Regions from separate parts of the Homo sapiens genome. Here region 1 is linked to region 2. The links come from fine-mapping of genetic effects on gene expression. A gene starts in region 2. The other region holds a variant in brackets. All regions are shown on one strand. Distances are from middle to middle.

Region 1 (11,912 bases), 39 kb before region 2:
ACCTGCCACCATGCCCAGCTAATTTTTTTGTATTTTTAGTAAAGATGAGGTTTCACCATGTTAGCCAGGATGGTCTCAGTTTCCTGACCTCGTGATCCTCCCACCTCGGCCTCCCAAAGTGCTGGGATTACAGGCATGAGCCACCGAGCCCAGCCTAATATTTGTATTTTTAATAGAGATGGGTTTTCGCCATGTTGGCTAGGCTTGTCTTGAACTCCTGACCTCAGATGATCCACTCACCTTGGCCTCCCGAAGTGCTCGGATTGCAGGTGTGAGCCACTGCGCCTGGCCTCTTTTTTTTCTTTTTCTGTGGAGATAGCATCTTGCTGTATTGTCCAGGCTGGTCTTGAACTCCTGGGCTCAAGCAACTCCTGGGTTCCTCTTGCCTCGGCCTCCCAAAGTGTTGGGATTACAGGCATGAGCCATCACACCTAGTCTTAAAATCTATTTTATCTGATATAAGTATATAGCTACTTTTGCTCTTTTTTGGTTTCCATTAGAATATCTTTTTCCATCCCTTTATTTTTAGTCTATGTGTGTCTTTATAGGTGAAGAGTTTTTATAGGCAGCTAATCATTAGGTCTTTTTTTTTTAAATCTATTCAGCCACTCTATGTCTTTTGATTGGAGAGTTTAGTCCATTTACATTCAATGTTATTATTTATAAGTAAGGACTTACTACTGCCATTTTTAAATTTGTTTTCTGATCTTCCCTTCCTCCCTTCCTTCCATCTTCCTTTTTATGAAAGTGATTTTCTCTGGTGGTATGTTTTAATTTCTTGCTTTATATTTTTGTGTATCTGTTGTAGGCTTTTTGATATGAGTTTAGCATGAGGCTTGCAAATACCATCTTATAACCCATTATTTTAAACTGATGACAACTCTGATTGCAAAAACAAGCAGAGAAAACTAATACTCTAACTTCATCCCTCTGATTTTTAACTTTTTGTTTCTACAATATTTATATCTTATTATACTATGTCTTAAAAAGCTGTAGTTATTATTTTTGATAGGTTTGCCTTTTAGTCTACTACTCAAGATATGAATAGTTTACATATTTGTAGAGGTGCCACCTTGGTGATCTTGGGTACGATCTTGGAGAATTCCCTGGATCACCGTTAGCAGTGACGAGTCTGTACAGGTCTGCAGCAACTCGATTCTTGCCTCCTCAGAGGAAAGAATTTGGCCAAGCAGCATAAGGCAGAGTGAGAGACCAAGGCAAAGTTTAAAGCAGGGGTAAACGTTTATTAAAAAGTTTTAGAGCAGGAATGAAAGGAAGTAAAGTACACTTGGAAGAGGGCCAAGCGGGCGACTTGAGAGATTCAAGTGCCCCGTCCGACCCTTCACTGGGGGTTTCTATACATTAGCATGGTTCTGAGGTTTGTGCCCTCCCTTGATTTTTCCTTGGGGTGGGCTGTCTGCATGTCAGTGGCCTGCCAGCACTTGGGAGGGGCCGCATGTGCAGTGTGTTTACTGAAGTTGTGCGCATGCTCATTTGAGGCATTTTCCTTTACCAGTCGAGCCTTCCCAGAGGAAGGTTATATACCAGTTAAAATCTGCCATCTTGCCTCTTACTATGTATGCATGAGCCTGCTTGCCCAACTCCTGAGATCTTATCGGGAAGCTGCTGATCACCAGCTTCAAGTGTTTTCTATCTTTTTTTTTGAGATGAAGTCTCACTCTGTTGCCCAGGCTGGAGTGCAGTAGCGCGATCTCGGCTCACTGCAACATCCGACCCCTGGGTTCAAGCGATTCTCCTGCCTCAGCCTCCCGAGTAGCTGGGAGTACGGGCATGCGCCACCACGCCCAGATAATTTTTGTATTTTTGGGTAGAGATGGGTTTCTCTGTGTTGCCCAGGTTGGTCTTGAACTCCTGGCCTCAAGTGATCCATGTGCCTTTGCCACCCAAAGTGCAGGGATTACAGGCATAAGCCACCAAGCCCGGCCCAGAAATGTTTTCTTTTGGGAGGATTTATCTCTTAATCTTTACCGCTTGGCCTTGCCAACTTAATTTGCAGATTAATTCCCCCCAAAGACAGATGGGGAATAACAGAAATATTTAAGTGTTTGACAGCTTCCTCTTAGTAACGTTCTCCTAGGCTTCATTCCAAGATATCAAGAGAGGTAAACATTTTGCAGTCTTCCAGAGAGGAGCTGAGGTACACGGGAAAAGTTTCATGCTCATGTTACAACTGTAGTGACCCACAGTTTTTCAGGGAGTATAAGAAAAAGATAACACCCAGTGTCAGGCCCTTATAAAGCCTCAACTTTCAGAATCCTTTCACAATGTTAGATTTGCTGATCAATGAATATATAACTGAACATTAAGAGTAATAATGGGGCTGGGTACGGTGGCCCATACCTGTAATCCCAGCACTTTTAGAGGCCAAGGCAGGAGGATCACTTGAGCCCAGGAGTTTGAGACCAGCCTGGGCCACATGGTGAAACCCCGTCTCTATAAAAAATACAAAAATTAGCCGGGTGTGGTGGTGTATTGCCAGTTACTTGGGAGGCTGAGGTGGGAGGATCAGCTGAGCCCAGAAGTTTGAGGATGCAGTGAGCTATGATTGTGCCACTGCACCATTCCAGCCTGGGTGACAGAGTGAGACCCTGTCTCAAAAAGAAAAAAAAAAAAGACTAATAATGGCAAACATTTACTTGGCATTTACCGTCAGTCAGCCACAATGCTGAACACCATGATTGTCTCAGCTAAAGGATACACCACCTCTCTGATAGTTAACAAGTAACTGATCATTAACTGAGTGCTTACTGTATGCCAGCCATTGGTTTAACCTCATTAGATATGTTACCTCATTTCATCCTCACACAATCCCCAAGGAAGGATTATTATCATCCCTTTTTTATAGATGAGGAAGCTGAAACTTAGAGAGGTTGACTTGCCCAAAGTCACTTAACAGCTGAGAATATCTGTGGAGGGAAGGCGAAATCCCATGCCAGGCAGCCTGACCTCAGACCCTGCACTCTCAGTCCCCAAGCCGTGACAATATTTGAAATGTTCTGAGGCTACTGATATAAGAAAAAACAATTTTTTTCCAGACAGAATTTTGATTCTTTCACATCTGTCCTATTGCTGGGCAAAACCTCTTGTGTGTTCTGTGATTGGATCTGCTTTCAGAGTGCTGAGAGCTCTGTGCAGGGGAGAAAATCCTTCAAAAACCTAGGAGAATGATAATAAAAGCAATAGTGATAATAAATGATAATGATAAGAATTATAAAAATATAAATTTTATAAAATTATAACATATAAGTATAAAATTTACAAAATATATACTTATATAAAAGATAAATATATATAAGATAAAATATAAATACATATATATTTTATAAGATAAATAAATAAATAAATATATTTTTGAGACGGAGTCTGGCTCTGTCGCCCAGGTTTGAGTGCAGTGGTGCAATCGCGGCTCACTGCAACCTCCGCCTCCCAGATTCATACAATTCTCCTGCCTCAGCCTCCTGAGTAGCTGGGATAATAGGCGCCTGCCACCACGCCTGGCTAATTTTTTGTATTTTTAGTAGAGACGGGGTTTCACCATGTTGATCAGGCTGGTCTCAGACTCCTGACATTGTGATCCGCCCGCCTCGGCCTCCCAAATTGCTGGGATTACAGGCATGAGCCGCCAGACCCGGCCTATATGTATTTTATATATATCAAGTATGTATATCTGATATATATATATAAAACAAAGTATATCTATTTTGTAAATATATATTTATTTTATAAAAATATAAAATATAAATAATACATCATAAACGATAGTAAAGATAATAAACACAGCGCGGCAGCCCCATCCCCTTTTTCTACTCACCCCTAAAACAAATCCGTATAAAAATCAAGTTTATTAAGGAGCAAGTCCCACCCTTTTTATTTAGAAGCCAGTGTCTATAGGATCGCTCTTGGCTATTGTTGGATTAATTCCAGGGTAGGGGAAAACTCCAGTTTTTGAGCCGGACACGCACTCCTGCTTTTCAGGACCTTTTTAATTTTGATGTTTTCAACTTTTAGGCCCAGGGGTCCATGTACAGGTTGCTATATAGGTAAATTGCGTGTCACGGGGGTTGGGTGCACAGATTGTTTCGTCACCCAGGTACTAAGTGGAGCACCGGATAGGTAGTTTTTCAGCCCTCACTCTCCCCACCAGAGTCAAGCAGCAAAAATGCTAGGCCTTGTGGGCGGGGCCGGGGTGCCCGCTCTTGCCACTGGTCCAATCACAGCGCGGCGTTCCTCCTGGCCGGCCGCCGATTGGTGGTTGCCATAGCTCCGGGCGTTCGCTTGCAAGATGGCGGCGGCGGGGCAGTGGCTGCTGCGTTTTCGTGTCTGAGTCCTTCCTGGGTTCTAATGAGGGCGCGGTTCTGCTGTGCCCGGCCCGCGAGGTCTAAGGCATGGGCTTCCAGCCTCCGGCCGCTCTTCTTTTGAGGCTTTTCCTTCTGCAGGGCATCCTGAGGCTTCTGTGGGGGGACCTGGGTGTGTACGGCGCGGCAGTGACCTCGGTGGGCCGGGGCTGAGGGGACTGGGCGTTAAAAGGGCCAGACTTGGACTCCCCCGGGAGCTTCGGGAGTCGACAACGCCAAAGCAAGCCGCCACACACACCTTAGGCGGTGATTCTTCCACTGCTAACCCCTCCTTGTCCCCTTTCCTTCCCGCCTAGCTTTCATCCCTCCTTTTATCCGAATGTCCGGCCCTGCGGTCAGCGCGTCCCTGGTCGGAGACACCGAGGGTGTGACCGTGTCCCTGGCAGTGCTGCAGGACGAGGCGGGTAAAGTCCGGCCCTCTTTTGGGGAGGGTGGGGGTTGGACTGGATCCAGACCTCCCAAGGAGCCTGGAGAGGTGGCATCCTTGGGGCCCCCTGCCTCTGTTCTCTGCAAAGTCGCATGGGGAGAAAAGGATCGGGCGGCTGCTGTAGGCCAAAGAGGACAGACGGACAGGTTCGAAGAAAGCCTGAAATAATAATGGTTAGCATTCATTGAGCTAACATCGTGCATCATCCCATTTTCCTAGTAAGAACAGTAATATCTTTTCATCCCCTTTGACCAAGGAAGAAACAAGTTCAGAGAGGTTGTCACTGTCCCAGTGTCAAGCAGCTTGTAAAGGGCCCAATCTTAGGCTGTAATGTGAGTCCATCCTAGGCAGTCTGACTCAATGCACCCCCTGAGCTGCTGGACCTTGCTGCCTTTGCATGCTGGTCTTCTTTCTTTAGGAATATTGCCAATTCCGACGTGTGGAGTGCTGAACAATGAGACGGAAGACTGGAGCGTGACTGTGATCCCCGGTGCGGTAAGGCCAGAAGTAAACCTTCTCTGTAGCCTGTGAAGAGGCCCCCAGCTAGGGTTTCTGCAGTGCTCTCTTTATTTAACAAGGCATGGCTTTCTCCATGCTCTCAACAATCATGAAATTGTGGGCTGTTGGATCTGGTAGACACTTATCCAGCCCACGGGTTCCTTACCCTGGGGTTAGGAGTCCTTGGATGTATTTCAGTGGGTCTGTGAACTCTATGAAATTGTATGTAAAGTTCTGTGTGTATGTGCATTTTTCTGATGAGAGGGTCACCAGTTTCCTTTAGATCATCAAATGGGTCAGTGATTCAAAAAAGCTTTATGCCAGGCATCGTGGCTCACGCCTGTACTCATAGCGCTTTGGGAGATTGAGGCGGGAGGATTGCTTGAGCCCAGGAGTTCCAGACCAGCCTGTAACATAGCGAGACCTCGTCTCTACAAAACAATTAAAAAAAAAATTAGGTGGGTGGCGTACACCTACAGTCCCAGATACTTG[G/C]AGGGGGGTGGGGTAGCTGAGGCAAGAGGATTATTTGAGCCCAGGAGTTCAGGGCTGCAGAGAGCTATGATCGCACCACTGCACTTCATCCAGCCTGGGCAACAGAGCAAGACCCTGTCTCTTAAAAAAAAAGAAAAAGCTGGTCAGGCGCGGTGGCTCACGCCTGTAATCCTAGCACTTTGGGAGGCCGAGGAGGGCGGATCATCTGAGGTCAGGAGTTCAAGACCAGTCTGGCCAACATGGTGAAACCCATCTCTACTAAAAATACAAAAATTAGCTGGGCGTGATGGCGGGTGCCTGTAATCTCAGCTACTTTGGAGGCTGAGGCAGGAGAATCACTTGAACCCGGGAGGCAGAGATTGCAGTGAGCCGAGATCACGCCACTGCACTCCAGCTTGGGTGATGAGCGAGACTCCGTCTCAAAAAAAAAAGCTTCATAACCACTGATCTTGCCCAACTCTGAGCTTATGTGTAAGGATACTCAAACCTGGAGAGATTAAGCATCTTCTATTTAATAAGTGTTTATTGGATACCTAGTATATGCAACATCAATTCTGGAGAGAAAAGGACAGGAAAGACAAGCTCTGCTTGTACCCCAGGAGTGAACATGTACATGTCTAAAGTCATTCTGGGATAAACTGAGGATTGTTTTCATTGACTTTTTTTGTGTATTTACTCTTCCACTGATAGGATGATAAAGAAACTAAAAAGGTGTACAATAAACTGAGTTTATTTATCAGATCTGTGTTTAGCTTTCTCTAAGTATCCCGAAGTTGTTTGCTTTTATGTTAAGGAAGAAGAATCAGGGCTTGCATGTTACCATAGGTTTATGGGGGGGAACTGAAGATAACTGTGTCATCTCTGTATACATTTCCCTTTTATAAAATGAACGGAGGCTGATGTGTACTTTTATTGTGTTTTCCATTATGTATTCTTATAGACCCTGTTTTGAGTCACTTTAAAAATACAGCAATGTTTTCCTTTCAGAAGGTGTTGGAAGTGACAGTGAGGTGGAAGAGAGGTCTGGACTGGTGTTCCTCCAATGAGACAGATTCCTTCTCAGAGTCCCCCTGTATCCTCCAGACCCTTCTGGTTTCAGCATCTCATAATTCATCCTGTTCAGCACATCTACTCATTCAAGTGGAAATTTATGCCAACTCTTCTCTGACCCATAATGCCTCAGGCAAGTGAAGTCTTTGACTGTCAAAACTTTCATGTTGTTCCCAGCTACTTAGGAGGAAGAGGTAGGAGGATTGCTTGAGCCCGGGAGGTTGATGCTATAAATGAGCTGCCCGGGAGGTTAATGCTACAAATGAGCTGTGATCGCGCCACTGCGTTCCAGCCAGGGTGACAGAGTGGGACCCTGTCTCAAAAAAAACCAAAAACAAAAACAAAAAAAGAAAAATTTGTGTCAAGCTTACCTGTTTGATTATAAGTGTATGCCATGCAATTTGTAAAGTATACTTCACTTGAGTCTGTCTTGCTTTTCTAAACTTATTTTTCTTTTGTTTAGTTTTCTTTTAAGAAATTTCATTTTGTACTATTTTATTTAACATTTATTTGATCTTTCTCTACTGTTTGCATCTTTATAAGCTACCTTGAATCCTTTTTGGGAGAAGGTGAAATTTGTTTATGTACATTGATTCTCTCTCTTTTTTTTTTGAGATGGAGTCTAAGTCTGTCACCAGGCTGGAGTGCAGTGTTGTGATCTCGGCTCACTGCAACCTCCACTTCCTGGGCTTAAGCGATTCTCCTGCCTCAGCCTCCCGAGTAGCTGGGACTACAGGCTCACGCTACCACGCCCAGCTAATTTTGTACTTTTAGTAGAGATGGGGTTTCACCATGTTGGCTGGGATGGTCTTGATCTCCTGACCTTGTGATCCGCCTGCCTCGGCCTCCCAAAGTGCTGGGATTACAGGCGTGAGCCACTGTGCTCGGCACGTGCATTGATTGTCATGACTGCATCTTAAGAAGAAAAAAGGAAGGGTGGCCAGACGCAGTGGCTCCCACACTGTAAGTGCTTTGGGAGGCCAAGGCGGGGGAATTTCTTGAGCCCAGGAGTTCGAGACCAACCTGGGCAACACAGCAGATACTGTCTCTATAAAAAATTTTAAAAAGCTGGGCATGATGGTGCCTGCCTGTAGCCCTAGCTACTAGGGAGGCTGAGGTGGGAGGATCGCTTGAGCGTAGGAGTTTGAGGCTGATGAAGTTTACATCATTTCCAGCTTTTTTTAAAATTTATTTTTATTTTCATTTTTTTTAGAGACACGGTCTCACTCTGTTACCCAGGCTGGAGCTAGAGTGCAGGGGCACGATCCTGGCTTGCTGCAGCCTCAACCTTCCTGGTTCAGGCGATCCTCCTGCCACAGCCTCCATAGTAGCTGGGGCTACTGGCGTGCACCACCACACCTGGCTAGTTTTTACATTTTTTGTAGAGACAGGGTCTCACTATGTTAGCCAGGCTGGTTTTGAACTCCTGGGCCCAGGTGATCCTCCCACCATGGCTTCCTGAAGTACTGGGATTACAGGCAGGAGCCACTGCACCTGGTCTGTTCCCAGCTTTTGATGCTACAGCAAAGATCGTTATGCCCGTGTACATGAATCTTTGGACATGAGAAAATGGTTTTGTGTTCATCTCCGTCTCACATGATGTTAGTGTTCTTAAACCAAAAGAGCTTTCAACTAGATGTGCCGATGTAGAGGGCTCTGCAGTGATGAGTGCTACTGCCATGTCCCCTGTCTCCGGTGGCGAACTCTGACATCTCTTGCCTTTATGGCCACGTGGCATGGAGGGAGAAGCGTTCCAGACTTTAGTAGCAAAAGTCTGTTACCTGGAGACTCCTTTACTGCCGCTTCCCTTATTACATCCCTAACTGTGGTCCTCCTGGTGCTTCTGGAAGTTTAGGATGATAAGACAAGTTTTGACAGCTCCTTTCAGCAGACTACTGTGCCCTCAGTGTACTTGCATGGAAAGGCCTCCATGATGAATGAAGTGAAAAAAGCAAGTGCAGATGGCTGCCTACAGTGTGCTATCTTTTGCATAAAGGAGGCAGAAATGAAAACATTTGCATAAAGAAATTCTGGAAGGATGTTGGAGAAGCTAATAATGTGCTACCAAGTTGGAGGATGATGTGGGAACAGGAAAGGGCTGACAGTGAGGAATTTTTTAATATGCTTTTGATTTTTTGGAACCATGCAAATGTGTTACCCACTTAAAAGTTTTAAATTTTTCTATGGCTTAAAATTCAAAACAAAGCCAAAAAAACCGTATTCAATGATGAAAAAAAAAATCCCCCCAAAACAACAGAAGGGATTCATGATAGCTGTACCATTCAAAGCACTGACTTTTTTCCTTTGAGAAATATGCTTGAGGCCAGGTGGTGGCTCATGCCTGTAATCCCAACACTTTTAGAGGCTGAGGTGAGTGGGCCACTTGAGCCTAGGAGTTCAAGACCAGCCTGGGCAACATGGCAAAACCCTGTCTCTACAAACAAATACTACAATTAGCTGTGCGTGGTAGTCGGTGCCTGTAGCCCCAGCTATGAGGGAGGCTGAGGTCGGGGGATCGCTTGAGCCCAGGAGGTGGAGGCTGCAGTGAGCCAGGATTGCTCCATGTACTCCAGCCTGGTCGACAGAGCAAGACCTTGTCTCTAAAAAAAGACCGGGCGCGGTGGCTCACGCCTGTAATCCCAGCACTTTGGGAGGCTGAGGTGGGCGGATCACGAGGTCAGGAGATCGAGACCATTCTGGCTAACACGGTGAAACCCCGTCTCTACTAAAAATACAAAAAATTAGCCGGGTATGGTGGCGGGTGCCTGGAGTCCCAGCTACTCGAGAGGCTGAGGCAGGAGAATGGCGTGAACTCGGGAGGTGGAGCTTGCAGTGAGCCAAGGTCACACCACTGCACTCCAGCCTGGGTGACAGAGCGAGACTCCATCTAAAAAAAAAAAAAAAAAAAAAAAAAGGAAAATATGCTTCAGTATATTTAGGTAATATTTAATATTTTAGAATACCAAACTTAGAAAATTGAACATCTTTGTATATGAGTGATTGAGTTGTCAGCTCTGACCCCATGAAGGCATGAAAAATTTTTTACTCAGCCAGCCAGCGATTAAAACTAGAAAAAGAATGGAAGCACAGACAGGAGGTATGTGTCATACCCAGTAACAATGAAGCCAGCGAACAATGTAGAAAACATAAATCAACACACAAACATCTATTTGTATAACACATAGTAAAACCCTATTCTGAAGTGTCTCGTGGCTGGGGGTGGTGGCTCATGTACTATGCCTGTAATTCCAGCACTTTGGGAGGCCAAGATGGGAGGATCACTCGAGCCCAGGAGTTTGAGACCAGCATGGACAACATAGTGAGACCCTGTCTTTACAGAAAATATGAACGTTACCTGAGCATGATGGTGCACACCTGTGGTCCCAGCTACTTGAGAGGCTGAGGTGGGAGGATCACTTGAGCCCTGGGAGGTTGAGGCTGCAGTGAGCTGTGATTGTGCCATTTCACACTTCAGCCTGGGCAGCAGAGTGAGACCCTGTCTCAAAAAAAAATCAATAAAGTGCCTTGCTTGTGTCACATGGGTTTGATAACACTGAGGGTCAGACCCTTACCCGTGTAACGTGGTCTGCGATGTGGACCTTCTCCTTGTTCCGGATACCATTGATGTATCATTGACCTTCTGCTATGTTACAGGATAGAACAGATCGTTAGTTGTTCTTTAGATACTTCAGCTATTGTGTCATTACAGTTAACTGTTATGTGGGGTTTAAACAAATAGTTCCTGCATGGTTTTCTAACGTGTACCAAATGCAAAAGTAAAATTCAGCAGAATGAAACTTTTATCTGATAAATGATTGGAGAGAAATCCAAAGCATTACTGTCACTGGATTCTGAGTTAGGAGGCTGAAATGTCGTGTAACATATTCCTCTTCAAAGAGGAAAACAAGTTCGGAAACCTGTAATATCCTGAAGAGTTATAAACAACGGGCCCTGCCAATGTTTACCTTTTTAGCATTTCTCCTGAGCTGCTTTCTCTGGCCTTGTCCCATTCACGCCCGCCACCTTCTCCCCTGCACCACAGTGTTCCCCCTATTCATCCACCCCCTCTGTCTTCCACCTACAGCTCTCCAGTAGCCCCTCTTACCTGTACAAACTCTTTCTTTTTTTTTAAAGTATAGATGGGGTTTCTCCATGTTGGTCAGGCTGGTCTCGAACTCCTGACCTCAGGTGATTCCCCCGCCTTGGCCTCCCAAAGTGCTGGGATTACGGGCCTGAGCCACTGTGCCTGGCTACCTGTACAAACTCTTACGTGTGTTTCAGGCTCAGCGCATTCTCTCTCTCTGCAAGTCTTCCTGACGCCCAGCCTAAGCCACGTGCCCTCCCTGGGTTCCCATGGCAGATCCATTTCAGTGTTTACCCTTTATGGTCACATGATCTCTTTACCTGTCTCCTCCCTCTGAGAGTGCGAGCCCCTCAGGGAAGCTGTTGTGTCTCACTGTATCATCCCTGCATAACCCAGCCCCCCATACTCTCGTGGTCAGACCACATTTGTCCCACCTGCACTGTTGGGTACCACAGCCACGAACCATGTCTGGACACTGGACAGTTGAAAGGGGATGGGTCTTAATTGAGATGTGCTGTAACTGTTAAACAGCCACCAGTTTTTGAGGACTTAATGTGAAACAAAGAATGTGGAATAGCTCATTCATAATTTTTACATTGATTGCCTGTTGCAATGATATTATTTTGGATACGTTGGGTTCAGTAAAATATATTAAGTTAATTTTATCTGTTTCTTTTTTGTAGCCTGGGCTACTTTTTGTATTTTTATTAGAGACAGGGTTTCACTATGTTGGCCAGGCTGGTCTTGAACTCCTGACCTCAGGTGATCCACCCACCCTGGCCTCCCAAAGTGCTGGGTTTACAGGTGTGAGCCACCCCGCCCAGCCTAAAATCAGTACATTATGTATATACTAACTTGTGACTCTTAGTCAATTGATTATCTTCTAGATCAACTATGACTTCTTTGGTTCATTGTAACTGGCGTGTTTTCTTATGTTTGGGTTTTTGTTGGAGTGGTAGATGCAGGCCTCATATACTTCGTGGAT
Region 2 (8,000 bases):
TGGTAAAGACGGGGTTTCGCCTTGTTGCCCAGGGTGGTCTGTAACTCCTGAGCTCAGATGATCTGCCCACCTCGGCCTCCCAAAGTGCTGGGATCACAGACGTGAGCCACTGCGTCCGGTCCATCTGACTTCTCAAAGACTTTAGACCTTGACTTCAGTGATTTGTTGTAGTCTTGTATGCTTCTCTATAAAATTTTAATAAATGAAATGTCTTATTTTTGTAGAAAATTTTTATTAAGTGCCCTGTGACTTTAATTCATATATGTAGCTATCCAATGCAGAATGAATATTCTCATCGCTGGCCTGAACTGAGTAAAATGCATGAGAAGAACTCAAAAATGTTAGAAATTTTAGCTTATCACAAATTAGTTAAAGTCATAGGAGTTTTATTTATACCAGAGAGAATCAGTCTTTTCTTTAGTTTTTAATACATTCGTGTTGATTGATGTTTCCCATATTCCGTAGAAAGGATTAAGAAATCCTTAAAAATGCATGTAATACAAAAACACAAAATCACTGATGGGGAAAGATATGGGGGCTGCGGGAGGAAAATAATAAGAGAAAAGTAAAACAAAACCAGGGGCACATGTAAGCCCTAAAATACATGCCAGAGGTTGCCTTTAGCAGAAGCAGGCCCCTAATTCATTATTTATTTATTTGTTTTTTGGAGACAGGTTCTCCCTCTGTTGCCCAGGCTGGAGTGCAGTGGCACGATTATAGCTCACTGTAAACTCAGACACCTGGGATCAAGCGATTCTCCCCCAAGTAGCTGGGACTACAGGTGGCACACAGCTACCACGCCTGGCTATTTTTTTTTTTTTTTTTTTTTTTTTTTTTTTTAGTAGATGGGGGTCTCGCTATGTTGCCCAGCCTGGTCTCAAACTCCTGGCTTTAGCGATCCTACCACCTAAGCCTCCCAAAGTGCTGGGATTACCAGCAGGAGCCACTATGCCCAACCAAGACCCCAGTTTACAAAAACCCAAGTATGATTAGCTATAGGAATTATGAAATCTATTCATTAATACAGGAATTATGAAATCTATTCATTAAAAATTAACTGGTTATCAATGAAGGACAGTTTTTCCTAGCTGAGTCTTGACAAATTTCTCCCATGGGCCGTCACATGGGAACAGTCAACCCCACTCAGTGGGGAGAATGGATTTTTTTTTTTTTTTTTTTTTTGAGACTCGGTCTTACTCTGTTACCCAGGCTGGAGAGCTGGAGAGCAGTGGCACAATTACGGCTCACTGCAGCCTCGACCTCCTGAGCTCAAGTGATCCTCCCACCTTAGCCTCCCAAGTAGCTGGGACCACAGGCTTGTACCTGGCTAGTTTTTGTATTTTTTTTTTTTGTAGAGAAGGGGGTCTCCCTATGTTACCCAGGCTGGTCTCGAACTCTTAGGCTCAAGTGATCTACCTGCCTTAGCCTCCCAAAGTGCTGGGATTATAGGTATGAGCTGCTGTGCCCAGCCCTGGAATAGATGTTTTTAGCCACGGTCCTACAGTGGCCACATGGCACATCACCTGTAAGTTTTCTTTGTGTGCCAGGTAACTTAGTTGTTTCAGATGGATTTTCTATGTTATTTAAGCCTAATTTTGAAAAATAATTATTTTCCCTTTTATACTTTTTGATCGAATTCCTAGTGCCTGCTGATACCCAGCACCACATAAAATGTGCTGTTTCATCTTCGCTGCAGAGTTCCTGCCCAGGGGCAATTTCAAATTTTCCTCCAGTCTTAAGTCCATTTTCTTTTTTCTTTTTTTTTTTGAGACGGAGTCTTGCTCTATTGCCCAGGCTGGAGAGCAGTGGCGTGATCTTTGCTCACTGCAAGCTCCGCCTCCCGAGTTCACGCCATTCTCCTGCCTCAGCCTCCTGAGTAGCTGGGACTACAGGCACCCACCACCATGCCCAGCTAATTTTTCGTATTTTTAGTAGAGACGGAGTTTCACTGTGTTAGCCAGGATGGTCTCGATCTCCTGACCTCGTGATCCACCCGCCTCGGCCTCCCAAAGTGCTGGGATTACAGGCATGAGCCACTGCGCCCGGCCTGAGTCCACTTTCAAATAGGGGGATGAGCTAGTCACTGCAGAGGTCCTAAGTTTCTGCATGATGGAAATACCGTGAATTTCAGCATCTGTACTGTGGTGGTGTTGGGCCTTCACCCGACCCCTCTAGGGCTGACTCAGGAATCTGGGTCAGTACTGGACTGACGGAGCTGGGGTCTGAGTCAATTATTGTCTGAACTTCAGCCTTTGAATTCACCTTCACAGTTCTTACTGTATCTTTTTGTTGTTGTTGTTTCTTTTGAAACAGAGTGTCACTCTGTTGCCCAGGCTAGAGTCCAGGGATGCCATTTCAGCTCACTGCAAGCTCCACCTCCCAGGTTCAAGCGATTCTCTTGCCTCAGCCTCCCGAGTAGCTGGGACTACAGGTGCCCACCACCACGCCTAGCTAATTTTTATATTTTTTTAGTAGAGACGGGGTTTTGCCATGTTGGCCAGGCTGGTCTCAAACTCCTGACCTCAAGTGATCCACCTGCCTCAGCCTCCCAAAGTGCAGGGATTACAGGAGTGAGCCAGGGCACCCAGCCTAGTGTAACTAGCTTTGGATTTCAGGTATTTATGGAAAATAAATTTAAAACTTCCAAATGACAGGTAATTTAGCTTGATTTTGTGGGCTTTGTGAGGACGCCTTTTGTACTTAAAAGAAGGAAAAAACTCAGTTTGGCAGAATGGGGTCTGGAGTGTCTATGGTTTTAACTTTTTTAAGTTTATACATTTATGTATGCATTCATGAACTATTTATTGAGTGGCTACTATGTGCTGGGGCTTGGAGATACCACAGTGGCAGAAACAATGTCCCCACCTTGGTGGAGCTTCCATTCTAGCAGGGAAGACTGGCACTAACACACAGACAAGATAATTTCAGATGGTGGCAGGTGCAGTGAAGGAAATAGAACAAGGATGTGACTCCAGGGACAGTCTCAAGGAAGGGGATATGTAAGCAGAGACTCGACTGGGACAGCGGTGAGGTTGCGGCCTGGGGCGGGGGGCCACTGCTTCCCGGTCAGTGTGGGGAACACACACTGGGTGCTGTGTGATTCCATCGACAGGACAAGCCTGGAGGTGGCAAATTTAGCGAGACAAAATTGTCCTGTGGTGGCCAGGCCGGGCGGGAAGGGGAGACTGCAACTGAGCAGGAGGAGTCTTGCGAGGTCGGTGGGAAATGTTTGAAAACTGGATTGGGATGCTGGCTGCACACTCCAACTTCACGAAGAAGCCTAGGATCCCTCCGGGCGGCGGATCACGCCTGTAATCCTAGCGCTTTGGGAGGCCAAGGCGGGAGGATTGCTTGAGTTCAGGAGTTCGAGACCAGCCTGGCCAACATGATGAAACCCCTTCTCTATAAACATTTTAAAAACAAATTAGCCGGGTGTGATGGCGCGCGTCTGTAATCCCAGCTCCTCCAGAGGCTGAGGTGGGAGGATCGCTTGAGCTCAGGAGGTCAAGGTTGCAGCGAGCCGAGCTCGTGCTACTGCACTCCTCCCTGGGCCACAGAGGGAAACCCTATCCATAAAAAACCAGCAGCAGGGCCGGGCGCAGTGGTTCACGCCTGTAATCCCAGCACTGCGGAGGCCGAGGCAGGCGGATCACCTGAGCTCTGGAGTTTTGAGACCAGCCTGGCCAACATGGTGAAACCCCGTCTCTATTAAAAATACAAAAAAATTAGCTGGACGCGGGTGGCGCGCGTCTGTAGTCACAGCAACTGGGGAGTCTGAGGCTGGAGAATCGCTTGAACCTGGGAGACGGAGGTTGCAGTGAGCCGAGATCGCGCTACTGCACTCCAGCCTGTGGGACTGCGTGAGATTCCGTTTCTCTCTCTCTCTCTCTCACACACACACACACACACACACGCAGCAGCACAGGGTCGTGCACTAGGAACGGGTGAGCTTCGCGGCGTGCACACTCGGCGAGACTCCTCCAGGAAAGCCGGGGAGCCGCGCGGGATTTAGCTCTGCGTCCAGTCCGGCGGAGCGCCAGCTGCAGTGGTCGTACCCGCCGGGTTCGCGCTGGTTGGCCCTGCCGCCACGTCGTGCGGCGACAACCTCGGGCGTCCATTGGTCGGCCGGCGGGGGGGGCGGGACGCGGGGGCGGAACCGGAACCGGCAGTGGCTTGGGGGCGGGACCTCGCGGACTGCTGTGGCGGCAGCTGGAGCGGCGGCCGCGGTGGCAGAACCGGGGGCGGCCGCTGCAGTCTGGAGCCCCATAGTGCGGGGCCGCGGCCAGGCCACAGGAAGAGCTCGAGGCCCGGGCCGCACCGGCTGAGTGTGCGGGCCCGCGCGGCTCGGAGCCGCCGCCGCCCATCGAGCCCCTCCGGGCGCGGGTCGGCCCGCCATGGGGTCCCTGTTCCGGAGCGAGACCATGTGCCTGGCGCAGCTCTTCCTGCAGTCGGGCACGGCCTACGAGTGCCTCAGCGCCCTGGGCGAGAAAGGCCTGGTCCAGTTCCGAGACGTGAGTGTCGCCCGGGAGACGCGGGCCGCACCTGCTCTCCTGGCGCCCCCAATCCCGCGCATCGCTGGGGCCCTCCCGCGGGGAGCACCGAGGAAGGGCGCGCCCCGTCCCCATTGTCCAGACGGGGAAGATGACACCCCAGCTCAGCGGCCAAAGCTTCCCGGAGCGCGGGGCTGACTCCAGGGTCGCCGGCCGTCTGTGTGGTCGGCGGCTGCTCTGCCCCAGTTAGTTAGGATCGCCCGTGTGGTCTTCATCAGCTCCGGGCACCGAGCTCAGCGGGAGAACAAATCCCACAAAGGCCTCTTGGAGTCCTTTTGGAACTTTACGGGGGTTAGGGGGGCGCATTAACCAAATAAATAGGTCAACCAGAAAAGGTTTGCCATAAAGAAGAAACGGGGTGATGTGAAGGTGATTCGGGCGGGAGGTGAGTGTGAAGGGATTGTCGAGGAAGCCTCCCGGAGAAGGTGATATTTCAGCTGAGACCCAAATAGAAAGGAGCCAGCCGTGGGGAAGATCTGGGGAGAGGGTCCTTGTTGGAGGGAACAGGAGGAGCCCAGACAGAGCCAGAAATGGGAAGGAGCTGGATGTCATCTGCTTGAGGAGAGGGATTTTTGTGTTTTGGTCACTGATGCTTAATGCTGTACATACCATTGTGTGTAAGGACTTAAGAACTCAGTCATTGTTTGTCGAGTGGAAGCTGTCTCCCCAACAAGTAATAATAAACATTTGTTTGTCCATTTACTTGTTTATTGTTTGTCTCCACCAAGGACTGTCAACCTCTGAGAGTAAGTACCTTAACGCAGTCCTTGGCAGTCATTGGCATCGATAGGCATTTGTTGAATGAACAGACAAGCTTTTCTTGACTGCCCGCTATGTTCAGGCACTGTTTTTGGTGCTGGAGACTCGGTGGTGAGCAAGGCAGACACAGTCCCTGTGTTCCTGGAGCTTCCAGTGTGGGAGGAGACAGATTAAACACACTCTGATTATGAGCTGTGATAAGTGCTAAGAAGGCAAAGAACAGGGTGTGGAAGGGAGACCGTGAAGCAAGTACTTACTGACTGAATTGAAATCCACTCAGGCGAACATTTTATTTCCTGGCCACCACTTTCATCTCCTGACTGTTTCCCTTAATCTTCCTAAGGTGTCCTTAATTTCAAAAGGGATCAGCCCTACCCGAGATCTGATATCCATTGATATCAGATATCTAATACCAGATCAGCCCCATAAGGCAGTTGCAAAGTCATGGAGAGACTCCTGAGTGACAGGCGAGGGTGCAGGTAAGATGCAGGGCGGTTCCTGGTTCCTGGAGCCACTTCTGCAGTTGTACCCATTCACCTGATGGATGCTGCGCTGAGCTGTGAATAGCACCCAAAACATTCAGGCAACAGCTGCAGGTGCAGCAGGCTCCTACATTTGTAACAGGTAGATGTTTTCCTTCCGGTTAGTACTCAAGCCAAGACACTTATCACACTTCAGTCTTACAGGTTTGAGCAAACGTACTAATCACTATGAAGGTTCCAGTTTCAATAAGCGCCACTACCTCCAGTCATAGAGTGTACCTGGGATCCTTTTCAACTGAATGTCAGTGAAAGGAGAAGAAAGTGCTGTTCATCTTTTTCCAGAAGGAAGTAAAACTAAGGTTGCTGCGATGAGCTCTTGTGTGGTGCTAGGTTTTCAGTGTGTCTTCAGCCTGAGTTTCCTACTGACTTTGTGGTGACCAGATGGGATCACTGTTAGTAACCCTTGCAAGGGAAAGGGGGGCAGGTGGTGACTTCCGTGGTGACAGCTAGTGGGAAGTACCTGGAAAAGAAAGGTCATTCAGCTGATGGGGAGGACTCCCTGAAGGGAAAGTTCGCACTTTTGTTACAGTTCTCAGTCTAAGAACAGGTTTCCTCTTTAGTCCTTCAGCTGAAGTGGGAGTATCAATGGCTGTGAATATCAAAACAAACAGCACCAGATCTCCTCTGCCGGTTTTACTAGGTTAAATGTGCCTTGAATTGAATCTACATTAAAATGTACCTTATTCCATTAGCCTTGAATTAGGGTGCTGCCCTAAAAGGGAAAAAAAACCCAAAATTTATAAAAGAAACCACACAATAGAAAAAAAAAGTTAATATGTCTGGGCACGGTGGTTCACGTCTGTAATCCCAGCACTTTCGGAGGCCAAGGCGGGCAGATCACAAGGCCAAGAGTTCGAGACCATCCTGGCCAACATGGTGAAACCCTGTCTCTACTAAAAATACAAAAATTAGCTGGGCATGGCGGGGTGTGCCTGTAGTCCTAGCTACTCTCAGAAGGCTGAGGCAGGAGAATCACTTGAACCCAGGAGGCAGAGGTTGCAGTGAGCTGAGATCGCGCCACTGCACTCCAGCCTGGCAACAGAGCGAGACTCCGTCTCAAAAAAAAGTTAATATATGTAAGCTGGTGATGGTGGTGTATGTATGTGAAATCCATGTTTGTATTATTGCCACAGAAATTTACCTCTTTATAAATAAAGATTCTACTATTTGTAGAAACATCATGCCCATTTAGAGTTAAGTACTATTTGATATTGAAGGAAGAAAATGAAAGCTGAGAAGTAGTATCCTGTGACAGCTTTAGACACAGAACTTCCTTTCCAACAAGTTCCATAGAACTAGATTGTGTCTGAATCATTAGTAACTTGGAAGTGGTTACTTTTAGTTCGACCTCCAGAAATGAATGAGAAGGTGACAAACAGAAGTGAAATGAGAATTTTTACCTTTTTTCTGGTTCTTTTAAAAAAAAAGTCCCCAAAAAATGAACAAGAACTGAGTCAGACACTGAGTAGACACTTACCAGGTTGAGCAGTTTCATGTCAAGTTGTATCTTAACTGTTTCTTGAGAGTGCCCAGTACAAATCCTGGATGGAATAAAGATAAATTTCGTGTCTTAAATGGCTTTCAACATGAATGATATACTGTAAATTGTTGAAGTATGAAAGTGATAGATGACCATTGTGAGAAATGTGGAAAACATAAGAATAGTAACATACCTTGCATGATCCCAACGCCTAGAAATTAACTTTAACTTTTTGGCTAATACTGGACAATCAGCATTTCTCTAATAATGTTTAAAAATGTCCATATATATGTATTTTTATATAATTTGAACCACACTGAAAACATCCTAATCTGCTTTACACAGAAATCATGACTAACTTCCTAATTTTATTAAATATTCTTTTACAACTTTTTAAAATTGTTTTAAACTTTATATTATAAGTAGAGGGAAGAGTACAGTGTACCCCCATGTACCCATAAATGTAAACTTAGTTTTTTCTCACTTCCCAGACTAGATCATTTTGAAGCAAATCCAAGATATATAATTTAACTTTTCAACAAGTACCTCTAAAAGATGAATTTTTTTTCTTTTTTTTTTTTGAGATGGAGTCTCAATTCTGTCGCCCAGGATGGAGTGCAGTGGCGCGATCTCAGCTCATTGCAACCTCTGCCTCCCAGGTTCAAGTGA

Evidence for each region.
Region 1: its variant is fine-mapped to the expression of ATP6V0A2 in whole blood (INTERVAL, PIP 0.94).

The regions. Positions count from the first base shown.
Region 1 is chr12:123,666,835-123,678,746 of GRCh38, forward strand. TCTN2 (tectonic family member 2) reads left to right here and starts at 4,279. Exons shown (of 18, transcript NM_024809.5): 1 at 4,279-4,488; 2 at 4,673-4,780; 3 at 5,222-5,298; 4 at 6,781-6,976. The coding sequence starts at 4,407. The variant G/C (reference allele first, on the strand shown) is at 5,794.
Region 2 is chr12:123,708,172-123,716,171 of GRCh38, forward strand. ATP6V0A2 (ATPase H+ transporting V0 subunit a2) reads left to right here and starts at 4,182. Exons shown (of 20, transcript NM_012463.4): 1 at 4,182-4,511. The coding sequence starts at 4,395. TCTN2 (tectonic family member 2) reads left to right here. Exons shown (of 18, transcript NM_024809.5): 18 at 1-228. LOC105370042 (a long non-coding RNA gene) reads right to left here. Exons shown (of 3, transcript XR_945477.4): 2 at 7,329-7,392; 3 at 4,595-6,563. RefSeq lists a silencer at 4,007-4,556.